Linked DNA regions of Homo sapiens. The protein of the gene in region 2 purifies or fractionates together with the protein of the main gene of each other region. This does not show direct contact. Each region holds a gene or a part of one and is shown on either strand. Other genes may lie near its edges.

Region 1 (7,655 bases), on a different chromosome or scaffold from region 2:
ATTTTTCTCTTTTTCTTCTTTTTCTTTTTTGATTCTGAATTGGAAGACTGCATTGCTGCTTCTCCATTGGTTAATACAGTGGATTTCTGGGGAGACTTTGTAACTTTTATATTTCCCACTGCTTCTTGAGACATGCCTCCATTTTGAGTTTCTGATAAGCCCACATTCATGGGCTTTTGTTTTGATTTTTTAACCTTTCTACTTCCCATTGTTTCTTCAGATACATCTCCATTTTGAGTTTCCGATAGGGTCAGATTTGAGGCCCCTGTTTAAATAAACAGAACATATACTGTGACAAAGAAGGAGAAGTTTACTTAGAAACACTGAAATCCCAAATGAGAACTTCCATGGCTTCCTGACACAAATTATTTAGATTTTCTTCTCTTTCATGTAATTAAAACAACTTATAGTTTTATGGTGTTCCCTTATAGGGAAAGTAAGTTATCTTAAAGAAAAAATACTGGAAAAGGGAAAGCTATATTGATTTCTTAACTGCAAAAGACCGTACATCTGACTTTAAGGAGTCTAGGACAGGAAAACTTCAATGAGGTCAAATATTTAAACAGATGAGGTCAGATAATGGCAGTTACAGAATAAACATAAGTATTTGATAAACATATGATTAACTGATATATTGAAAAAGACATTTACAACTCATTCACACAAGTACTATTTTTCATACCACTTCAAAACATTCAACCCCAACTCTTCTAGACTGCAGTGAGTTGAAAATTCAGTTGATAAGACCACTTATTTGCTCCAATATTTATCATATGCAAATACAGTAATGCGTGCACAATGACATTTCTGTGAATTAAGGACAACATATACAGTGGCTCCATAAGATTATAACGGAGCTAAAAAATTCCTATCACCTAGTGCCATCAGTAACTGCAATGTCGTAGTGCAACATATTACTCATGTTTGTAGTGATGCTAGTATAAACAAATCTACTGTAATGCCAGTCGTATAAAGTACAGCACACATAATTATGTACAATACATAATACGTGATAATAAACTATGTTACTTGTTTATGTGTTTACTATACTTTTGATCATCATTTTAGAGTTTACTCCTTTTACTTATTAAAAAAAAATGAGTCGACTGTAAAAGAGCCTCAGGGAGAGAGGTATTTTAGAAGGCACTGTTATCATAGGAGATGACAGCTCCATGCCTATTGTTGCCCCTGAAGATCTTCCAGTGGGACAAGATGTGGAAGCGGAAGACAGTGAAACTGAATGTGTCTGTGTCTTTACATTTTTAACAAAAAGCTTAAAAAGAAAAAAAAATAAAATAAAAATCACATAGAATAAGGACAAAAGGAAACTTTTTGTACAGCTGTATGTACAATGTGCTTGTGTTGTAAGCTAAGTGTTATTAAAGTCAAAAGGTTAAAATTTAACAAGTTTATAATGTAAAAGTTACAGCAGGCTAAGGTTAATTTAAGAATAAAAGTATTAAAAAACTCAACAGTGTAGCCCAAGTGTACAGTGTTTATAAAGTCTATAGTGTACAGTAATGTTCTAGGCCTTCACATTCACTCACCGCTCACTGACTCGCTCAGGGTAACTTCCAGTCCTGCAAACTCCATTCATGGTAAGTACTGTATACAGAGGTACCATTTTCTAAATCTCTCATGTCATAGTCTTTTTACTGTACCTTTTCTATGTTTAGATATATTTAGCCATACATACACTTACCATTGTGTTACAATTCTCTGAGTATAGTACAGTAACATGCTGTACAGGATGACAGCTTACGAGCAACAGGCTATATCATGTAGCCTGGGTGTGTAGTAGATTTAGGTTTGTGTAACTAGATAAAGTTCGCAAAACGACAAAAGCCCCTAATGACACATTTCTCACAATGTATCCCCCCTCCTGTTATGCGATGCATGACTGTACCTGAGAATGTCCTTACCAAAGGTTCCCTGTTTGTTTACTGAAAAAGATAAAACACCATCTTTTGTTCAAATTTACTTACATATGCGCTGAAAAGTAGTAATGCTGTAGTATTATTCTATAGGAATTAGAAATACAAGAGTATTTCAAAACATATTCCTAAAATTCACAAACCTATTGCCTCCTGCAGAATTTTTTTTCAATTAATGTCTGTTGAAAACCAACTGGGGCAAGGCACTGTGCCTCCAAACTTTCCCTCGGGGAGTTTGTATCTTAACCTGGACAACAGGTTAACACAATTACTTCAAGATCTGTGGCCCCACTGTCAGGACACTGGGACTGCAAATGAGGTAGGTAAGAAAGGTGACATTCAGATAAAATCCTTTTCATTTAGGTCACTGTGCGGGACACAAATACGTAGAAGCTCTGGTGAGAAAGTGCTACGAGAACGTGTGGAAGTGGGTAGAGGAAGGCAATAGTATCAAAGAAGCTCTGTGGAAACAGCCAGACGGGCTTTTGGGGAAAGAAATACGGGAATTAAATAGATGTGAAAAGTGGGTGGAAATGAGACGTTTCATGCAGCATAACCGGAAATGAGGGATGAGGTGAGGTGCGACTTGCAGGTGGTGAGGGAACCAAAAGCTAAGGTGGAAATGCAAAAGGCAGGGTTAGTCGTAAGCCTAGAAGTGAACGGGGAGTCCTCCCGCTCTAACGTTGTAAGAAGACACTGATTGCTCAGAAAGGTCAGGAGCAGCGCTGGAGCCACGCGACGAGTGGGCAGCAGCGCGGGTCCCGAGTGGAAGCTGCCTTTTCACTCTCCCCAATCACACACGCTGCAGGGGAAGCTGCCTCCGTCACACAGAGCAGCTGGGCCCCCGGCCGCCCGAACGCGCCAGGGCTCGCGCGTGGGTCTTCTGAGCCACCGCGAGTCAACGCATCTCACCCTGAAACTTTAGGTTCCGCTGCCGCAATTTGAGGTTCCGCTTCTCGATCTTCTTACGCAGGAGTTTCATCGGCAGGTGTGACATTCTGCCCAACAAGTGCCTAGAATAAGGCGCCACACAGTACAGCTACTCAGTTCTCAGGCTGACGTTACTTCCCTTCCGGCCGCACGTGCGCAGCTCGGCCAACAGGAAACGCGTCACAGGAACGCTGGCACCCGGCGGAACGAAAATGCTCCAGAGCGGAAATGCTTCCAGACGCGCGCACCGTGATATCTTTGGCGACCAAAATCTTTGCAGCGCCCCCTGGAGAAGTGGAAGCGAGACGCTGCACTGGCTTCACACTGTGCTAAAGCTAACTTGAGCTCCCCCTAGAGGAAGACTGAAGAAAGAACGTGGAGGGGAAGGAGGCCTTAGGGAGTCCGCATTTTTATGTTCCTATCCTCTGTGGGTGCAGAACTAGAGTTGGCCCTCCCTGTACCTGAATTCCCTGTCTGTGGATTCAACCAACTCCCCCATTGAAAACATTAAAAAAAAAACAATTAAAAATAATACAGTGTGATAACTACTTTCATAGCATTTAGGTTGTATAAGGTATTATAAGTCATTTAGAAATGATTTAAAGTATACAGGATGTTGTGTGTAAAATAAATGCAAATATTACACTATTGTATATAAGGGTTTTGAGTATCCTAAGATATTGGTACCCATAGAGGGTCCTGGACTCAATCCCTTGTGGATACTGAGGGACAACTGTATTTGGGAAACTGAATAGAACTAAATTATATATATGCATTTCCAAACTTGTTTGGCCACTCTCCTCAGAAATACAATTTCTGTGTCACTTGGTACACATACACACATAAATATAACATTTCTCAAAATAATATTCTTGCTTTTCACTCTTTTTCCTTCAATTCCATTCATTCCATCCTAAATTATTCTTTTTAGCTTACTAAAAATACTGATTCCTATGAATTTAAATTAACTTTACTACATTAATAATAGGTTGACTGCAGTTTGAAAAAGAGGTTTATATATTCCTTAAGTATACCCAAGGACCCTTCAGCAGTCCAGGACAGAAATTGCAATGTGGCTAGCTAATAGTCATCTCTTTTTTGGGATGGGGAGGAAGACAGGGGTATGCATATAGTATTTAATTTTTAAAAAAATTGTTATCAACATTAAAATACTTGGAGATTTCCATAAAAATTCATATTTGTCTTTAAAAATTGGCCCAATGCCCTCAAATTCCCCTTAACAGTAATCAATTTGAGCTGAACAACTGGAAGAGTCCATGAAACCTGGATTAATTTGTTTACTTGGAGGGGCAGAACATGAGACCCTGGAGATTAGACCTGATCATAGTGAGGAACAGAGAGGGAGAAAACTTGGGAGGGAGTTTAAACAGAATGTGAAGGAATTGACTTCGAAATCACATTGGATTGGACTGGAAAACTAAGACAAACAAATAATAATGTGCTTAGATTAATTTGTTAATGATCAGGCAGGCTGAAGAATGATTCAGAAATGTAAGAGCGCACACACACACGCAAACATTTATCTCAGTGTAAATATATATGCCAGTTTAAATTTATGCATATATCAGTATATATATGCATATACACATATGTATCTATTTCTATAGCTCTATGTACATACATATATATTTACCTGATTACATGTGTGAGTTTTGGGTCTGTGACTTTGAAATAGATACAACTGAAGTATATATAGAAAGTGCTCAAAATTTGTTATTTCTTTTATGTTGTAACTTAAATTTGTGGGGCTATGTTTTGGTAGTAGTAATGGAAAGGTACTCCCTTTTTTCTAGAGTGTGACTTTTTCTAGCTAGTAGTGAAGATTGGCAGTCATTTCCTCAAAACCAAAAAAACCCACATTTACGAGGTGTTTAAGACATTTAGATCAGAGAAGCCGATCCTTTCAGGTGCATGGAAATGCTTAACGTTAGGGATTGATAACCTTTTAAGAAACATAGATAAAGCTACTGATGCCAATTCTTCTGGATTTTTAGAAGAAGAATGAGAAATTATAACTTCAAATCAACTCTCAAAATTAGGGTTGAGAGTTATTTTTAACAGAGTGAATTTCCAAGGCCACATCATCAGTTACTCTAGCAAAGAAAACAATGTCATTGGGTTAGCTACTCAAAAATTACCTGTGAGGATGAGGTAACAATCACGTGCTTCTGAAAAGCCTGTTGTTCTTCACAGCTGGAGCCTATCCCAGTATCTATTCAGAATGCGTTTCAGTCTTTAAAACTTCTTGCTTGGGCTCTCCATCACAGAGGTCTCTCTCTTCAGAATATGGTCATTCGCCATAAAACAATCGCATAATATAGTCATTATGCAACTATTTTTTGAGCATTTTTGTGCTAAGAGTGTGTGGTAGGCATGTGCCAAATCCTGGGTATAAAATGGTGGACAAGATAGACCTGGCTCGCCTAGGTGGAGCTTACAGAGCTTACAAGGAAGACAGAAAATTAAACGATTATGGTAAACTATGATGAATGCAGTGAAAAGGAAGCACATCACAGGAGCAACATCCTAGCCTTGGGAAGGGGTCTGGGGATGGAGTCTGTCATTCAATATTCATTATGCATAGGGACTGAGCCAGCAGCAGGCAGAAGCAGGAAGGGAGTTGCTGTCTTTTTTTTGTTGGTTTGTTTGTGTGTTTTGAGACAGAGTTTTGCTCTTGTTGCCCAGGCTGGAGTTCAATGGCGCGAACTTGGCTTACCGCAACCTCCGCCTCTGGGTTCAAGTGATTCTCCTGCCTCAGCCTCCCAAGTAGCTGGGATTACAAGCATGCACCACTATACCCAGATAATTTTGCATTTTTAGTAGAGACAGGGTTTCTCCATGTTATTCACGCTGGTCTCGAACTCCTGACCTCAGGTGATCCATCCGCCTCAGCCTCCTAAAGTGCTGAGATTACAGGCATGAGCCACCGCACCTGGCCAGGAGTTTCTGTCTTTTACCTCCTGACTAAAAATAATTAAGTTTAACATAGAACAGGTCTTATTCATGCTGTTTTGTTTTTCAGTTTTCACTTGAGATCCTTAAACCTGAGACAAGTGTTTGTAAAATAAAACGCAGATTTGTGTAGTTTGTCATTCAAATTAAAAACGTCCCACTTCACTGGGAAAAGAAATCAATCTATTTCACCAACATCATAGAATTGTGAGCCAGAAATAACTGACTCATCCTCTCGGATCACTGCATTAGGACTCTTGAAGTGATTTTCTAGGAACTTTCAAATGCTATTTTCTATAAGGTTAACCACTCTGTTGTGTATTGGAACTTAAAAAGTGCTATGTTATTGTAAATAAGCATGATGTTGCCTCCTTCACATTACCTGACTTTCCTGGACCAGCATCTGGTTCTGTGTATTTCTACATTGTAGAAAGCAGATGGCTGGTACTTAAGAAAGGTTTTCTTCAGTGAACTGATGGACATAAGAGTGAGAGATTATTTTAAAGAGCATCACCACAATTCATGACAAGTCATTATTGCAGTGGTCCTAGGAGCTGGAGAGGATACAGAAACATATAACAGAAACTTTTCTGTCAAGAAGTTTATTCATTTATTAATTTAAAAAAATACCATCTATCCATTCCAGGTACTGTTTTAGGCCTCAGGGATCAGCAGTAAACAAGACAGGAAAAGTCCTCATTTCCAGGGAGATTACAGCCTGGATAAGAGACGACAGGTATAAGTAAACCTTGTGATTGAACAAGATACCTTTGCATGAAGCTAAATGCTGGGAAGACATTACAACCAGACAATGCAATATAATAAAGAGGGATGGGTGGGAGGGCAGGACAGCATGCTATTCAGGTGGGAGGTATTTTTTGAGGAGGCAAAGATCTAAGGTCAGAGAAAAGGCTGTCAAAGACAAGTCTTAATATGCTATTAAGTAACAATTCAAGGGATCAAGAGCAGATTTGTAGTCAGGAGCATAAGAGGAGATTTGCAGGGGGAAAGAGTCTAGGGGCTGGGTCAGGCTTGAGTGAATAAGGGGATAGTGACAATGTTAAAATGAACTGCATTTGACTTCCTTCCCTTCGAGTCATAGTCTGACCACTGATGATTGAATCACAGACTGAGTCTTGCTTGTACAGTATGTTGCGGAAATAAGAGGATGGAAATGAATTTATTTTTAATACACTTCTTATGTGGAATAATTTTAGACTTGCAAAAAAGTTGCAAAAACAGTGCCCTTTACCCAGTTTTCCCTAACGTTAACAACTTATGTAGCCGTGATACATTTATCAAAATAAAGACATTAACGTTAGTGAATCACTATTAACTAAATTAGACTTTATTCAGATTTCACTAGTTTTTCCACTAATGTCCTTTTTCTTTTTTTTCTCTTCTTCTTTTTCTTTATTTCTCCTAAAAAAAAAGGGATACACATGCAGAACGTGCAGGTTTGTAACATAGGTATATGTGTGCCATGGTGGTTTGCTGTACCTATTGACCCATCCTCTAAGTTCCCTCCCTTCACCCTCAACCCCCCAACAGACCCTGGTGTGTGTTGTACCCCTCTCTGTATCCATGAGTTCTCAATGTTCAACTCCCACTTATGAATGAGAACATGTGATGTTCAGTTTTCTGTTCCTGTGTTAGTTTGCTGAGGATGATAGCTTCCAGCTTGATCTGTGTCCCTGCAAAGGACATGACCTCATTCCTTTTTATGGCTACATAATATTCCATGGTGTATATGTTCCACATTTTCTTTATTCAGTCTATTATTGATGGGTATTTGGGTTGGTTCCATGACTTTGCTAT
Region 2 (7,314 bases):
CACTTATTTTTTTTTTTTTTTTTTTGAGACAGGGTTTTGCTCTGTCACTCAGGCTGGAGTGCAGTGGCACAATCTCAGCTCACTGCAACCTCCGCCTCTCGGGTTCAAGCAATTCTCCTGCCTCAGCCCCCTGATTAGCTAGGATTACAGGCGCATGCCACAGTGCCCGTCTAATTTTTTGTATTTTTAGTAGAGATGGGGTTTCACCATGTTGGCCAGGCTGGTCTTGAACTCCTGACCTCAAGTAATCTGCCCGCCTCAGCCTCCCAAAGTGTTGGGATTACAGATGTGAGCCCAGCTGACCTCACTCTTAAAAAAAAAAAAAAAAAAAAATTCAGGGGAAAAAATGAAAAATAACCGTAAAAAGTAATACAAATTTTTAAAATACATTATGTACACTGTATTAGCTATCAGTAATCCAGGCCAGGCAGGGTGGCTCAGGCCTGTAATCCCAGCACTTTGGAAGGCCGGTGGGTGATCACTTGAGGCCGGGAGTTTGAGACCAGCATGGCCAACATGTCAAAACATCTCTACTAAAAATACAAAAATCAGCCGGTGGCCGGGTGGGGTGGCTGACATCAGTAATCGCAGCACTTTGGGAGGCCGAGGTGGGCAGATCACTTGAGTCCATGAGTTGGACACCAGCCTGGCCAACATGGTGAAACCCGGTCTCTACTAAAAATACAAAAATTAGCAGGGCATGGTGGCACATCCTTGTAATCCCAGCTACTTGGGAGGCTGAGGCAGGAGAATCGCTTGAACCCGGGAGGCGGCGGAGGTTGTGGTAAGCCAAGATCGCATCACTGCACTCCAGCCTGGGTGACAGAGTGAGTCTCTGTCTCAAAAAACAAAACAAAATTAAATTAAGTTAAAAAAAAAATTAGCCAGGTGTGGTGGCGCATGCTTGTAATCCTAGCTACTTGGTTGGCTGAGGCACGAGAATTGCTTGAGCCCAGTAGGCAGAGGTTGCAGTGAGTCGAGATTGTGCCACTGCACTCCACTCTAGGCAAGAGTGAGACTCTTGCCTCAAAATAAATAAATAAATAAATAAAGCTATTAAGCAATCCAGAGAGGATTTAAACTACATAGGCGGAAGGAGTATAGATTATATGCAAATACTACAACCAGTTATTTATTTATTTATTTATTTTTTGAGAGAGTGTCTCGCTCTGTCGCCCAGGCTGGAGTACAGTGGCACGAACTTGGCTCACTGCAACCTCCACCTCCCGAGTTCACGCCATTCTCCTGCCTCGGCCTCCCGAGTAGCTGGGACTACAGGAGCCTGCCACCATGCCCGGCTAATTTTTTATATTTTTAGTAGAGACGGGGTTTCACCGTGTTAGCCAGGATGGTCTCGATCTCCTGACCTCGTGATACGCCCGCCTCGGCCTCCCAAAGTGCAGGGATTACAGGCGTGAGCCACCGCGCCCGGCCTACTACAACCATTTTATATAAGGGACTTCAGCAGTCTGAGATTTAGGCATCTGTGGGAGTCCTGGAACCAACCCCTTAAGGACACTGAGAGACAACTATACCTGGTCTGTCAAACCGTTGGGGGGAGCTCGTCAATACCAAATGTAGTCCAACACATGCGGGATAAAACTCACCAAATAAAAATTCTAATTACTTTCTCTTGGTTCCCCACCATTACCTCCTTCTTTGCCAAAAGTGCCTGCTTTGCCTGGGTGGCTTTGAGGGCTTGATAAGCCTTCCTCTTTTTCAGGAGATTTTCTGGAACCAAAGGGATTTTTCTTTGCCTGATGCAGAAAATTGAGATCAGAGATAACATTTAGAAAAGAACACTTGGCCGGGCTCGGTGGCTCAAGCCTGTAATCCCAGCACTCTGGGAGGCCGAGGTGGGTGGATTACCTGAGGTCAGGAGTTCGAGACCAGCCTGACCAACATGGTGAAACCCCCGTTTCTACTAAAAATAAAAAATCAGCTGGGCGTGGTGGCGCACGCCTGTAATCCCAGCTACTCGGGAGACTGAGGCAGGAGAATCGCTTGAACCCGGGAGGCGGAGGTTGCACCGAGCCGAGATCCCGACACTGCGCTCCAGCCTGGGGGACAGAGCAAGACTCCGTCTCAAAACAAAAACAACAACAAAAAAGAAAACGAACATTCAATGGATTTCCAAACCAATTCAATATCCTGGGCTTTAGGGAACATTACTGTTTTCAAGTATCTGAAGAAAGATTCCCCTGAAACCTGCGGTTTCTGACTCCAGGCCTCATAAATCCATCCCTAATAGTCACTCATCCCCAAAGCCTCGGAAAATAATGAATCCTTTAGCCTCTGGGTTCGTATAAGTTAACAGGGTTTTCACGGCCACAGTTCTTCATAGGCACTAGCAGCGACGAATCTATGGGGTTGGGGCGGGGGCAGGCCTATCTGCAGAGTTAACACTTGTCGGGCTGGGTGAATTCAACTGTGGCACTCCAGCCCGCTGCCTGAAGTCAATCCTCGCCTCTCCAGATAACCCGAACTTGACCGCGGTCCCCTCCCTCCTCCGCCACAGCGCTACTCCTCCTCACCCCCACCCTTTGTAAACTGTGGCCTTTTCTATTCCTAGAGCCCACAGGAATCCGCCACCAAGGCATAAACACCGTGGATGGCACCGGATACTCAAGACCCCACTCCAGATATTCAAAGCCCCAAACACTCACTCTTGCTCCGCCATCTTTCTAGTGGTGCAGCTACTGATCATGCGCAACCCCACCACATGGGGAAGACAGCACACGCTCTGTTTACTTGACCATAGAGACGTCTGTTCTAGCTCACGCTGGAGGACCAGTCAGCGTTCACTTAGCCGCAGTGAGCCCTTGAGGTCCCGCTAACCCCGATTCCTGCCAAAAGTTGCACCGCTTCTTAGGGTTTTTAGAGCCTGTGTTATTTTCAAAACCCAGCCCTTTTCTTGTAAGTTACAGTTTCATCACAAGCGGCCTGGCTGTGGACAGCAAAGTGCTTCCCACAATGCACCTATGGCGTCCGCTCCTAGCTACGGCGCCGCACTTCCGGCGCGGCTGTGCTGCGTCTCTGGGGAGGAAGACAGGCAAACTCCGCGAAACATTTTCGCTCTGTGGAAAAACTTGGAGGCTATGGCTTTGGCTCTCACGTGTAGGTGGAAGTGTTTGTTGAGGACTTAGAGTGGTAAAGCAGGTAGCTGCAATTCCGTCTGCTTGGCCCCGTCGATGCGTCCTTGAACACGTTATTTAACCCCTCTATACTGCGGCTTCATTACCCATAAAATGGGTGTACAGTAATAATAGGTCTACCTAATGGCGTTACGAGGATTACAGGAGATTAGATAAAGCGTTTAGCAGTGTCTGTCAGCACTATGTTTGTTACTATTACTGCTGGACCGAAAACTACAACATGCTTCCTTCCCGTCTAAAACCGTTACACAGGCCGGGCGCGGTGGCTCACGCCTGTAATCCCAGCACTTTGGGAGGGAGGCCGAGACGGGAGGATCACCTGAGGTCAGGAGTTCGAGATCAGCCTGGCCAACACGGCGAAACCCCGTCTTGGGCGGAGGTTACAGTGAGCCGAGATCGCGCCACTGCCCACCAGCCTGGGCGACAGAGCAAGACTCCGTCTCAAAAAAACAAAAAGAAAAGAAAAGAAAAAAAAAGAATAAAAATAAAACCCTTATGCAGCTCTCATCGCCCGGAATTTGCGTTCTTCCCTCCCAGTCTATATAGAATCCTGAAAAACAGTAGGTCGGGCCGGTGGCTTTCACCTGTAATCCCAGCACTTTGGGAGGCCAAGGCAGGTGGATCACTTGAGGTCAGGAGTTGGAGACCAGCATGGCTAAGATGGTGAAACCCCGTCTCTACTAAAAATACAAAAAATTAGCTGGGCGTGGTGGCTCGCGCCTGAAGTCCCAGAAGGCGGAGGCTGCGTGAGCCGAGTTTGTGCCACTTGCACTCCAGCCTGGGCGACAGAGCGAGACAGTCTCAAAAAAAACAAGAAATAAATTTTTTTTAAAATTAAAAATCCTGAAAAACAACACAAGTCTTATCATCTCTGGAAACCTCCAGAGCAGCGCTTCTCAAGCATTAATAGTGAATAGGAGTCACCTGAAGATTTTACTAAAATACAGATTTTTATTCAGGAGGCCGGGTGGGGAGCTGATATTCTGCTTTTTTTTTTTTTTTTTTTTTGAGATGGCGTCTCGCTCTGTCGCCCAGGCTGGAGTGCAGTGGCGCGATCTTGGCTCACTGCAAGCTCCGCCTCCCGGGTTCACGCCATTCTCCTGCCTCAGCCTCCCGAGTAGCTGGGACTACAGGCGCCCGCCACCACGCCTGGCTAATTTTTTGAATTTTTAGTAGAGATTTCACCTTGTTAGCCAGGATGGTCTCGATCTCCTGACCTCGTGATCCGCCCGCCTCGGCCTCCCAAAGTGCTGGGATTACAGGCGTGAGCCACCGCACCTGGCCAATATTCTGCATTTTTAACAGGCTTCAGAGTGACGCTGGTGCTACTGGTCTATGGGCTGACTAGTAAGACTCTAGAGTAGTGTCTGATTTCCCTCAGGACATTATTATATTTTTAATATTTCTTCCACATGATACTAGGGGGGGCAGGAACCATGACTGCTTACTCATCACTGATCCTAAGGATCTAGCACCAATTTCTCGATTTTGGCACTATTGATACTGATACTGGTGGCAGCTAAAGGCCTCGTGTTGCCATGTAACTAGTCCAACCGGAAAGAGTGCCATGGGCACAGGTCACTTTCTGATGAGTAAGTGTCAGGACAACCCAGCATTCAAGGTCACACACTGAAAGAGGGAGGCTCATTCTCTTTCAGCACCTCACCATGTGTCTTTGTAAAGAGGCTAAACACAAGGGTCACCAAAGTGTAAGACATTCACTAAATAGTAAACAAAAAAGCAAAAAGTTAAATGTTTTGTGATTTTTCCTGTCTATGGATAAAAGGTAGAGTCTGTGGTACCAATAATATTAAAAGGAGGAGGAATTTTAGGGTTAACAATACTTCAGCCAGGCGGCGATGGCTCACGCCTGTAATCCCAGCACTTTGGGAGGCCGAGGCAGGCAGATCACTTGAGCTCAGGAGTTCAAGACCATCCTCAGCAACATGGCAAAACCCTGTCTCTACCAAAAATACAAAAATTAGCCGGGCATGGTGGCACATGTCTGTAGTCAGCTACTTGGGAGGCTGAGGCACGAGAATTGCTTGAACCTGGGAGGCGGAGGTTGCAGTGAGCCGAGATTATGCCACTGCACTCCAGCCTGGGCAACAGAGCAAGAATCTGTGTCAAAACAACCCCCAAAAAACCAGTACTCCAAGACTGAATGGGATTGAGGCCAGGATTCAGGAATGGCTTTCTACTGCCAGCAGATGGTGCTAGGAGAATACTTATTCTCAGTGCCAATCCCCTTACTCCACCAGACTGACAAAGGGAAAAAGAAAGGAGCCCCACCTCTTAAACAATTATTCACTAACTGAATATGTGTTTATTGAGCATTGAGCATGTGTCCTAGATTTTTTTTCAAAGTGAGGTTACTGAGGTCAGGTGTGGTGGCTCATGCCTGTAATCCCAGCACTTTGGGAGGCTGAGGCAGGCAGATCGCCCGAGGCCAGAAGTTCAAAACCAGCCTGGCCATCATGGTGAAACCCCATCTCTACTAAAAATACAAAAATTAGCTGGGTGTGGTGGCGCATACCTGTAATCCTAGCTACTTGGGAGGTTGAGGCACGAGAATCGGTGCACTCCAGCCTGGGCGACAGAGTGAGACCTTGTCTCCCCCCACCAAAAAAAAAAAAAAAATTCCAGTCCTCTTGTGAACTTATTTCCTCTTCATCATGTACATTTGGGCAGCTGTTGGGAGGATATCAAATCCAAACGCTTGCCCTCCAATACTTAAACTGAAGGAGTCTTTGGAAGATCTTTTCAATTCTTTTCATCACCCCATTGGGAGTGGGTATGAGATGCTAAATTTCTCTGTGATTTTGAATTTTAAGCAGAGTGATGATGGAACAAAGCACCAGATTTGAGACAAGACTTTTTTTTTTTTCGTTTTTATTTTTATTTTTTTTTTGAGACAAAGTCTTGCTCTGTCGTCCAGGCTGGAGTGCAGTGGTGCAATCTTGGCTCACTGCAACCTCTGCTTCCCAGGTTCAAGCAATTCTCGCGCCTCAGCCTCCCGAGTAGCTAGGATTACAGGCGTGTGCCACCACGCCCGGCTAATTTTTGTATTTTTAGTAGAGATGGGTTTCACCATGTTGGCCAGGCTGCTCTCGAACTCTTGACCTCAAGTGATCTGCCCACCTCGACCTCCCAAAGTGCTGGGATTACAGGTATGAGCCACCGCACCCAGTCAGGGGCAAAACTTTTAACGATTTCCACCTAAGAAAACCTCCTAGAGTTTCTTTGTCTCTGTCCTTCTCAAGCCTCATGGGTTCTTCAATTTTTTAATTCTTATCTTCCTTACAAAATCCCTTTATGTTGGTTAACTAGAATAATTTTCTGTTGTTTACAACCAAATAATCCTGACTGTAACAGTCCCAAACATATGGAATACAGACTAGGGTGTAAAAAAATGGTCCCAGATTGTTTTGGTTTTTTGTGTTTTTTTTTTGAGATGGAGTCTCGCTTTGTCGCCAGGCTGTAGTGCAGTAGCACTATCTCGGCCTACTGCAACCTCTGCCTCCCAGGTTCAAGCAATTCTCCTGACTCAGCCCCCCAAGTAGCTGGGACTACAGGCGCACACCACCATGCCTGCCTAATTTTTGTATTTTTAGTAGAGATGGGGTTTCACCATATTGGCCAGGATGGTCTCAATCTTTTGACCTCGTGATCTGCCTGCCTTGGCCTCCCAAAGTGCTGGGATTACAGGCATGAGCCACCGTGCCCAGTCCCCAGATTGTTTTTCTTTTCTTTTTTCTTTTTTTTTTAGACAGAGTCTCGCTCTGTCGCCCAGGCTGGAGTGCAGTGGCACGATCTCGGCTCACTGCAACCTCCACCTCCTGGGTTCAAGCAATTCTCCTGCCTTAGCCTCCTGAGTAGCTGGGATTACAGGTGCCCGCCACCACGCCTGGGTAATTTTTGTATTTTTAGTAGAGATGGGGTTTCACCATGTTGGCCAGGCTGGTCTCGAAGTCCTGACCTCAGGTGTTCACCTGCCTCGGCCTCCCAAAGTGCTGGGATTACAGGCATGAGCCACCGCGCCCGGCCAGTTATAGGTATATTTGTATGTAACAATTTTGGAAGCATATATGAAAAAGTGCTGACGGTGGTCTTTTTGGGAAATAGTAGTAGAGTCTGGAATCGGAGGAAAACTTCCATT
Region 3 (7,022 bases), on a different chromosome or scaffold from region 2:
TTCATACCAGGTCTTTGGCCTTCTCTCAGTTTAATACCAGGTCTTCGGCCTTCTCTCACTTTCATACCAGGTCTTTGGCCTTCCCTCAGTTTAATACCAGGTCTTCGGCCTTCCCTCAGTTTAATACCAGGTCTTCGGCCTTCCCTCACTTTCATACCAGGTCTTTGGCCTTCTCTCACTTTAATACCAGGTCTTAGGCCTTCTCTTACTTTAATACTAGGTCTTAGGCCTTCTCTTACTAGTGCTTTTTTCTTTCAAGACAGAGTCCCACTCACTCTGTCACCCAGGATGGAGGCAGTGGCATGATCTCAGCTTACTCTAACTTCCGCCTCCCAGGCTCAAGCAATTCACATGAGGTTTCACCATGTTGGCCGGGCTGGTCTCGAACTCCTCAAGTGATCCGCCCACCTTGGCCTCCCAAAGTGCTGGGATTACAGGTTTGGCTCACCGCATCCAGTCTTTTCTCACATTCTTGACTGTGACAAGCAGATTAACTGATAAAAACAGAAACTTCTGCACAAAATAATAAAAAGAAAAACTCACATAAATGAAAAGACAAAACCAAGCAAAGCTGGGAAAAAAATGAATCTAAATGAGCACAGAAAGGAAAAAACAGCTCTGAGCGCACGGACCCCACAGATCCACTAGACACCAGCGATAAAGAGAAGGCCCTGCAACCAGTCCTCGCTCCGGTGAGCCCGCGGCCCGCGCTGCCGTGTGCTGCTGGAGAGGGGACAGGAAGCGAGGCACAGGCCGGCAGGAGGCAGCTTCCTCCCTGGCTGGTCAGTGGAGGGCTGGGAGCACCCGTGTCAGGGGTGCTGCAGGGCAGGGAGCACACAGCCCAGGGCGCCCCTCCAGTGGGATGGCTCGCAGACACAGTCAACAGCTGGAAGGGCAGGGGCTGCAGAAAGTCCCAGGGAGTAGGAACCAGGCCAGGAGACAGAACTCGTGGGTCATCAGGTGGCACAGAACGCAATTAAGAGGCAGGACTGCCAGGCCCAAGGCAGGGAGGCTGGAGATGGGGTGGGCCCTGGGGTGAGGCTGGCCCACCAAGCTCGTGCCAGAGCAGGTGGACCCAGAAAGAGGGGTCACTGTAGCAGGGACGCAAAGGGTGGGGAAGGGATGCCTGCCCTCAAACCACACAAACACAAAAATAAATCAAACCCACTGGCCCCAAGGAGGCTACTAGCAACAGCTGTGGGCCCTGCCGTGGCCCACAGATACCCCAGGGAAGGAAGGGGGAGGTACAGCACCCACCCCATCTTCTTGGGCCCTGTCCCTGTCCTCATCCCTATCCTCTGACCACCCCCCAGACACAGAGTACCCTTCTTCACCTTCACTCCTGAGCTCCTCATGCCAACAGTCAGGGGAGGAGCTGCAAAGGGCACAGCCAGACCCTGCTCCTTGAGTGCACCTCACAAAACACCAGGACTCCTGACCCCAGAAACACAGACAGCAAATGCTCGTTGTTGAAAGGCACTATGGTGGCCAGGTGCGGTGGCTCACGCCTGTAATCCCAGCACTTTGGGAGGCCAAGGCAGGTGGATTACCTGAGGTCAGGAGTTCAAGACCAGCCTGGCCAACATGGTGACACTCCCTCTCTACTAAAAATACAAAAAAAAAAAAAATTACCCGAGCGTGGTGGCTGGCATCTGTAATCCCAGCTACTCAGGAGGTTGAGGCACGAGAATCGCTTGAACCCAGGAGGCAGAAGTTGCAGTGAGCCGAGATTGTGCCACTGCACTCCAGCCTGGGCGATAAGAGCAAAAAAACTCCATCTCAAAAAAAAAAAAAAAAAAAAAAAAGAAAGGCTCCATGGTTTGGGGCAGTTTGTTGTGGTGCCAGATAACAAAACAAACAAACAGAGAGAAAACAGCAAAGGGCTCCTGGCCCAGGGAGCTCAGACCAAAATGACAAGAACCAGCTAGCTGTCCTGCCCTTGGGCAACAGCCATGAGGGTTTCCAGCCAGCTAAGTGCATGGATGATGCCGCCACAGGGAAGAGACAGAAGGGCTTCCGGGACTGGGACCACGGGCACGCACCGCCATGCCTGGCTCATTTTTTAAATTTTCTGTAAAAATGGGGTCTCATTATATGGCACAGGCTGGTCTTGAACTCCTGGGCTCAAGAGATCCACCTGCCTTGGCCTCCCAAAGTGCTGGGATTACAGGTGTGAGCCACTGGGCCCAGCCTGTGACTCATTCTTTTTATTTTTATTTTTTCAGTTAAGCCCAGCTGTGCGAGCCTCATTCTTAATGAAAGAAAAACATCACTAAACAAGAGGAAAAGATGAAGCAGCAACACCATGAGGGAGGCTGGTGGTGGGAAAGCAGCTGAGGGGCGGCTGCAGTAGTGCATGGCATCACCGCCTAGCGGAGGGACGCTCCAAGCACCTTCACAATTAAATGCATTGATGGCCAGGTGCGGCGGCTCACGCCTGTCATCCCAGCACTTCAGGAGGCCAAGACAGGTGGATTACCTGAGGTCAGGAGTTCGAGACCAGCTCAGCCAACATGGTGAAACCCGTCTCTCCTAAAAATACAGACATTAGCCGGGCGTGATGACGGGCGCCTGTAATCCCGGCTACTCAGGAGGCTGAGGCGGGAGAATCACTTGAACCCAGGAGGTGGAGGTTGCAGTGAGCCGAGATTGCACCACCGTACTCCAGCCTGGGCGACAGAGCGAGACTCTGTCTCAAAAAACAAAACAAAACAAAACAAAACAAAACTAGCCAGGCATGGTGGCGGGGACCCTGTAGTCCCAGCTACCAGGGAGGCTGAGGTAGGAGGATCCCTTGAGCCCAGGAAGTTGAGATTTTGGTGAGCCAACATCGCACCACTGCCCTCCAGCCTGAGTGACAGAGTGAGACCCTGTCTCAAACAAAAAAAAGCATTTATCCTTTGACCTAGAAATTCTCTTGGAATTTTCCCCAAGAATGGTGTGCACATGTGAGAAACAGCATGTTACTGTCAGGTCAACTGTAAGAGCAAAAGCCTGCAACTGCCCACCCACTGGAGCTGTTGAGGCCGAGCTGCCAGGCACTCTACGGGCACCAAGCACTGTACAAACCAGAGCCATGGCCTCCCTGACAGAACCATCCTGAGACAGCGCACGGCTGCCCCTTCTCTTAAGAAACCACCATTCAAAAACTCTGTGCGAGTTTGGATATGTCTAGAACATCCTGGAAAGAGACTTCAGCACTGGAAACAGTAGTTGCCTGGATGCAGCAACAGGAGCCAGGAGGGAAGGGTAGGAGACTCGTTCCCTGGCACACCCCTCAGGAGCACCTGAGCATCCAAAGGTGCCCTAGAACACCACGTGCAGCTGCTCACTGAATGCCACGTAATTCTACACAGTCCTTAGAAAGGAGGCAGGGTCGTGTGCATGTCAATGCTAAAGGCCTGAGGGCAGAAAGCCAGAGGGAAGCCTGTGGCCCGGCCCTGCAGCCAGAAGCACGCCCACCCTGGGTCCACCCAGGCAGGTCCGGAGCCCTTGGCAGGTCGCCAGGTCTCCACAGGGGCCGCCAGCAGCTGACCCCCAGCAGTCACCGGGCTCCCCGCTACAAGGGCCTCCCACTGTGGGGCTCTCCGCAGGACGCCCCGGGCCGGTCTGGGTTGGTTTGGGGCACACACTTGGAATCAGATTTATGGAGGAGGCTCTCTGAAGGTGACCCATCAGCCACATCGCTGCCAGGATGGCAGAGATGAACAAAAGCCGCAGCTCCCTCCCATGCCAGTCACACAGCCCCTTCTTCACAGCACCATCGGGGCCGGGTATACCCACCAAGGGCTAGGCGGCCTGGGGAGTGAGGCCCTCGCCCTGCCTGACTTCGTGTGTCCCTGAGGTGTCCGTGACATGACACATGCATGCTGCCTGATGCCCAGCCCCATCCCGCCACTGTTCCAGTCTGATGTGATGCTGTGGCTGGGATGTCCTTCAGATGCACGAGGCAGAGGCCACAGGGGCCACGTCTTGCCAACCACTGTGGAGGAAACAGCGACAGGAGGGAGTGGGGGGACAGGCAGAAGCACGTGGCAGAAGAGAAATTAGCAAAAACATCATCTCGTCCTTCAGGGGCTGCCAGGCAGACATTACCCTCACTTACCAAGTAACCCACCGAGGCCCATGAACCATCTGCAAGACCACACGAGTGGCCGTGGCCAGGACCACAGAATCCCAGGTGCGCCCACTGCAGGGCAAGGACACTTAGCAGCAGGAGAAGCTGCTGTGTCACTGTGGTGTGAATTCCCAGAACCAAGGGGCACTGATTCTAGAAGCCGCTCAACGGAAGGGTTCTTGGGTTGAGGACCCACAACCACTGGCAGGGGCATCGGGGGCAGAATCCTCCAGATGGCTGTGGCGGGCGAGGGTGTCTGGCAGAGCCCCTGGTGGCCCGGCCCCGTGGACCCACGATGCGAGTGGGAGGTGGCGGAGATACAGGCGTAAGGAGCCCTGGACTGCCTTCGGGATGACACAGAAACAGGCCTAACCTGAGGCCACTAACTGGGCATGACGGGGCCATCTTGGCGGCACTCTGGGAGGCCTCACGTGGCCACGCTCATGGAAGCCAAGAGAACATGCAGGAGGCAGCACTGGGCTGCCGGCTGAGTTTCCACCTGCAGGGCTGCACAATGGGAAAGGACTCCCACCATTCAAGAGGGGCGCGGAGGGCAGGCAGGAGGGAGTGGCCGCTCAGCAGGCCAAGGTGCCTGGGTGGCTTCTGATGAACAGGGGGGAAAAGGGAGGGGTTCCCACTAAGAAGCTGAAAGCACCCCCACCTCATCAATTCATTCTCCTGACCTGGAAGAATTTAAACCCAGTCATGAGGATCACACTTTAGAACTGAAAACACCCTGACAGGGCCCAAGGTGCCCCTCAGCTAAAGCACAGGACACGCGGGCAGATGCACGGGCGCCATGGCAGGGCAGGGCCTCAGCCCCTCAGCTAAAGCACAGGACACGCGGGCAGGTGCATGGGCGCCACGGCAGGGCAGGGCCTCGGCCCCTCAGCTAAAGCACAGGACACGCGGGCAGGTGCATGGGCGCCACGGCAGGGCAGGGCCTCGGCCCCTCAGCTAAAGCACAGGACACGCGGGCAGGTGCATGGGCGCCACGGCAGGGCAGGGCCTCGGCCTCCCAGCTAAAGCACAGGACACGCGGGCAGATGCACGGGCGCCATGGCAGGGCAGGGCCTCGGCCCCTCAGCTAAAGCACAGGACACGCGGGCAGGTGCATGAGCGCCACAACAGGGCAGGGCCTCAGGCAGGGACTTGGGCAGCCAGCAGCGTGGGGAACTCTGAGGACCGCCCCACCAGCCCGGCCGGCCTTGCCACCTCAGGCCCTGCTGGATGACGGAGCACACAGACCACAGACAGCGGTACTTTGGAAAACACCCTGCATGGGGCAGCCAGTTACGCGGTCACAGAAACCCGAGCAGGGCAATGGGCAGGACAAGCACACACTCAGCAGTGCAGAGGACCTGGTGCTCCAGGGGCCAGGAGACAAGCAGCGAGAAGAGAAGATGGCGCCTCCCTAGACTCCGCAGACACCTCTAGTACCTTTCAAGTACTTGGATATGTTATTATGCGAAAACATTGTTTTGGTTTTTGAGGCAGAGCCTCACTCTGTCACCCAGACTGGAGTGCAGTGGTGAGATCTCGGCTCACTGCAACCTCCGCCTCCCAGGTTCAAGTGATTCTAACGCCTCAGCCTCCCGAGTAGCTGGGATTACAGGCACGCGCCACCACGCCCAGCTAATTTTTATATTTTTAGTAGAGACAGGGTTTCACCATGTTAGCCAGGCTGGTCTTGAACTCCTGAGCTCAGGTGATCCATCCACCTTAGCCTCCCAAAGTGCTGGGATTACAGGCGTGAGCCACCACGCCCGCTGAAAGAATTTAATAAAAAAATCATTAACATGTAAATGTGTAAATCCTTAATTTAAAAAGGGACAGAAGACCCAGAAAGATGTACACCAGACCACTAACTGTGCTCACGGGTTAGGTGTGAGGGCCCTGAGTGGGAGCTTCCACCCTACTGAATGGTGCTGCTACAATATCTACATTATTTTCCAGGATGTTTTATCTCATAATTTTTTTTTGAAACAGGGTCTTGCTTGTCACCCAGGCTGGAGTGCAGTGGCTCTATCATAGCTCACTGTGACCTGGATTCCTGGGCTCAGGAGATCCTCCCACTTTGGCCTCTCGAGCTGCTGGGATTACAGGTATGAGCCACTGTGCCTGGCCCAGTATTGTATCATTTTAAAAACTCAAGAAGGGGTAACGTAGTTGTCCATAATCTTACAAACCACTGCCAACACAGCACATCATTTTTTCTCTGTGTATGTTAGTGGTATAATTAAAGCCTGAATTAAGTGTGATTTTAAATCTTTTCTTCCCAGCAAACAAGCCAACCCAACACAGCTAGCACACAATGAACAAGCCATGGTTCCTTGGCTTCTATCACGGGGACCTCTGCCAAGGCCGTAACTTCCAGAACACCGAAACTACTGGGAGAGTAAATCCTTACAAACGATTTCCAGAATGTTTAGAGTAACAAATGCTGGGCTGGGCGCGGTGGCTCACACCTGTAATCCCAGCACTTTGGGAGGCCAAGGCAGGCAGATCACTTGAGGTCAGGAGTTCGAGACCAGCCTGGCCAACATGGTGAAACCCCGTCACTACTAAACATACAAAAAAAAATTAGCCGAGCCTGGTAGTGGGCACCTGTAATCCCAGCTACTCAGGAGGCTGAGACAGGAGAATTGTTTGAACCCAGGAGGTGGAAGATGCAGTGAGCCAAGATCGCCCCACTGCACTCCAGCCTGGGCAACAGAGCAAGACTCTGTCTTAGAAAAAAAAAAAAAAAATAGGCCGGGCGTGGTGGCTCACCTGAGGTCAGGAAATCGAGACCAGCCTGGCCAACACGGCAAAACCCTGTCTCTACTAAAAGTACAAAAATTAGCCGGGCGTGATGGCATGTACCTGTAATCCCAGCTACTAGAGAGGCTGAGGCAGGAGAATT

What was found.
Region 1: the proteins of RPL7L1 (region 2) and DDX18 purify together in Homo sapiens (affinity purification with mass spectrometry; 2 studies listed by BioGRID and IntAct, with this or other methods). This does not show direct contact.
Region 3: the proteins of RPL7L1 (region 2) and BOP1 purify together in Homo sapiens (affinity purification with mass spectrometry; 2 studies listed by BioGRID and IntAct, with this or other methods). This does not show direct contact.

Annotation. Positions count from the first base shown.
Region 1 is NC_000002.12:117,810,054-117,817,708, reverse strand, and holds the start of DDX18 (ATP-dependent RNA helicase DDX18), read right to left. Parts: upstream 3,019-7,655; 5' UTR 2,932-3,018; coding exon 2,847-2,931; intron 266-2,846; coding exon 1-265. UniProt on the Homo sapiens protein: ATP-dependent RNA helicase that plays a role in the regulation of R-loop homeostasis in both endogenous R-loop-prone regions and at sites of DNA damage.
Region 2 is NC_000006.12:42,875,304-42,882,617, reverse strand, and holds the start of RPL7L1 (ribosomal protein uL30-like), read right to left. Parts: upstream 3,003-7,314; 5' UTR 2,708-3,002; coding exon 2,667-2,707; intron 1,758-2,666; coding exon 1,652-1,757; exon of another isoform or gene 1,536-1,651; intron 1-1,535.
Region 3 is NC_000008.11:144,281,421-144,288,442, forward strand, and holds part of BOP1 (ribosome biogenesis protein BOP1), read right to left. Parts: intron 1-7,022. UniProt on the Homo sapiens protein: Component of the PeBoW complex, which is required for maturation of 28S and 5.8S ribosomal RNAs and formation of the 60S ribosome.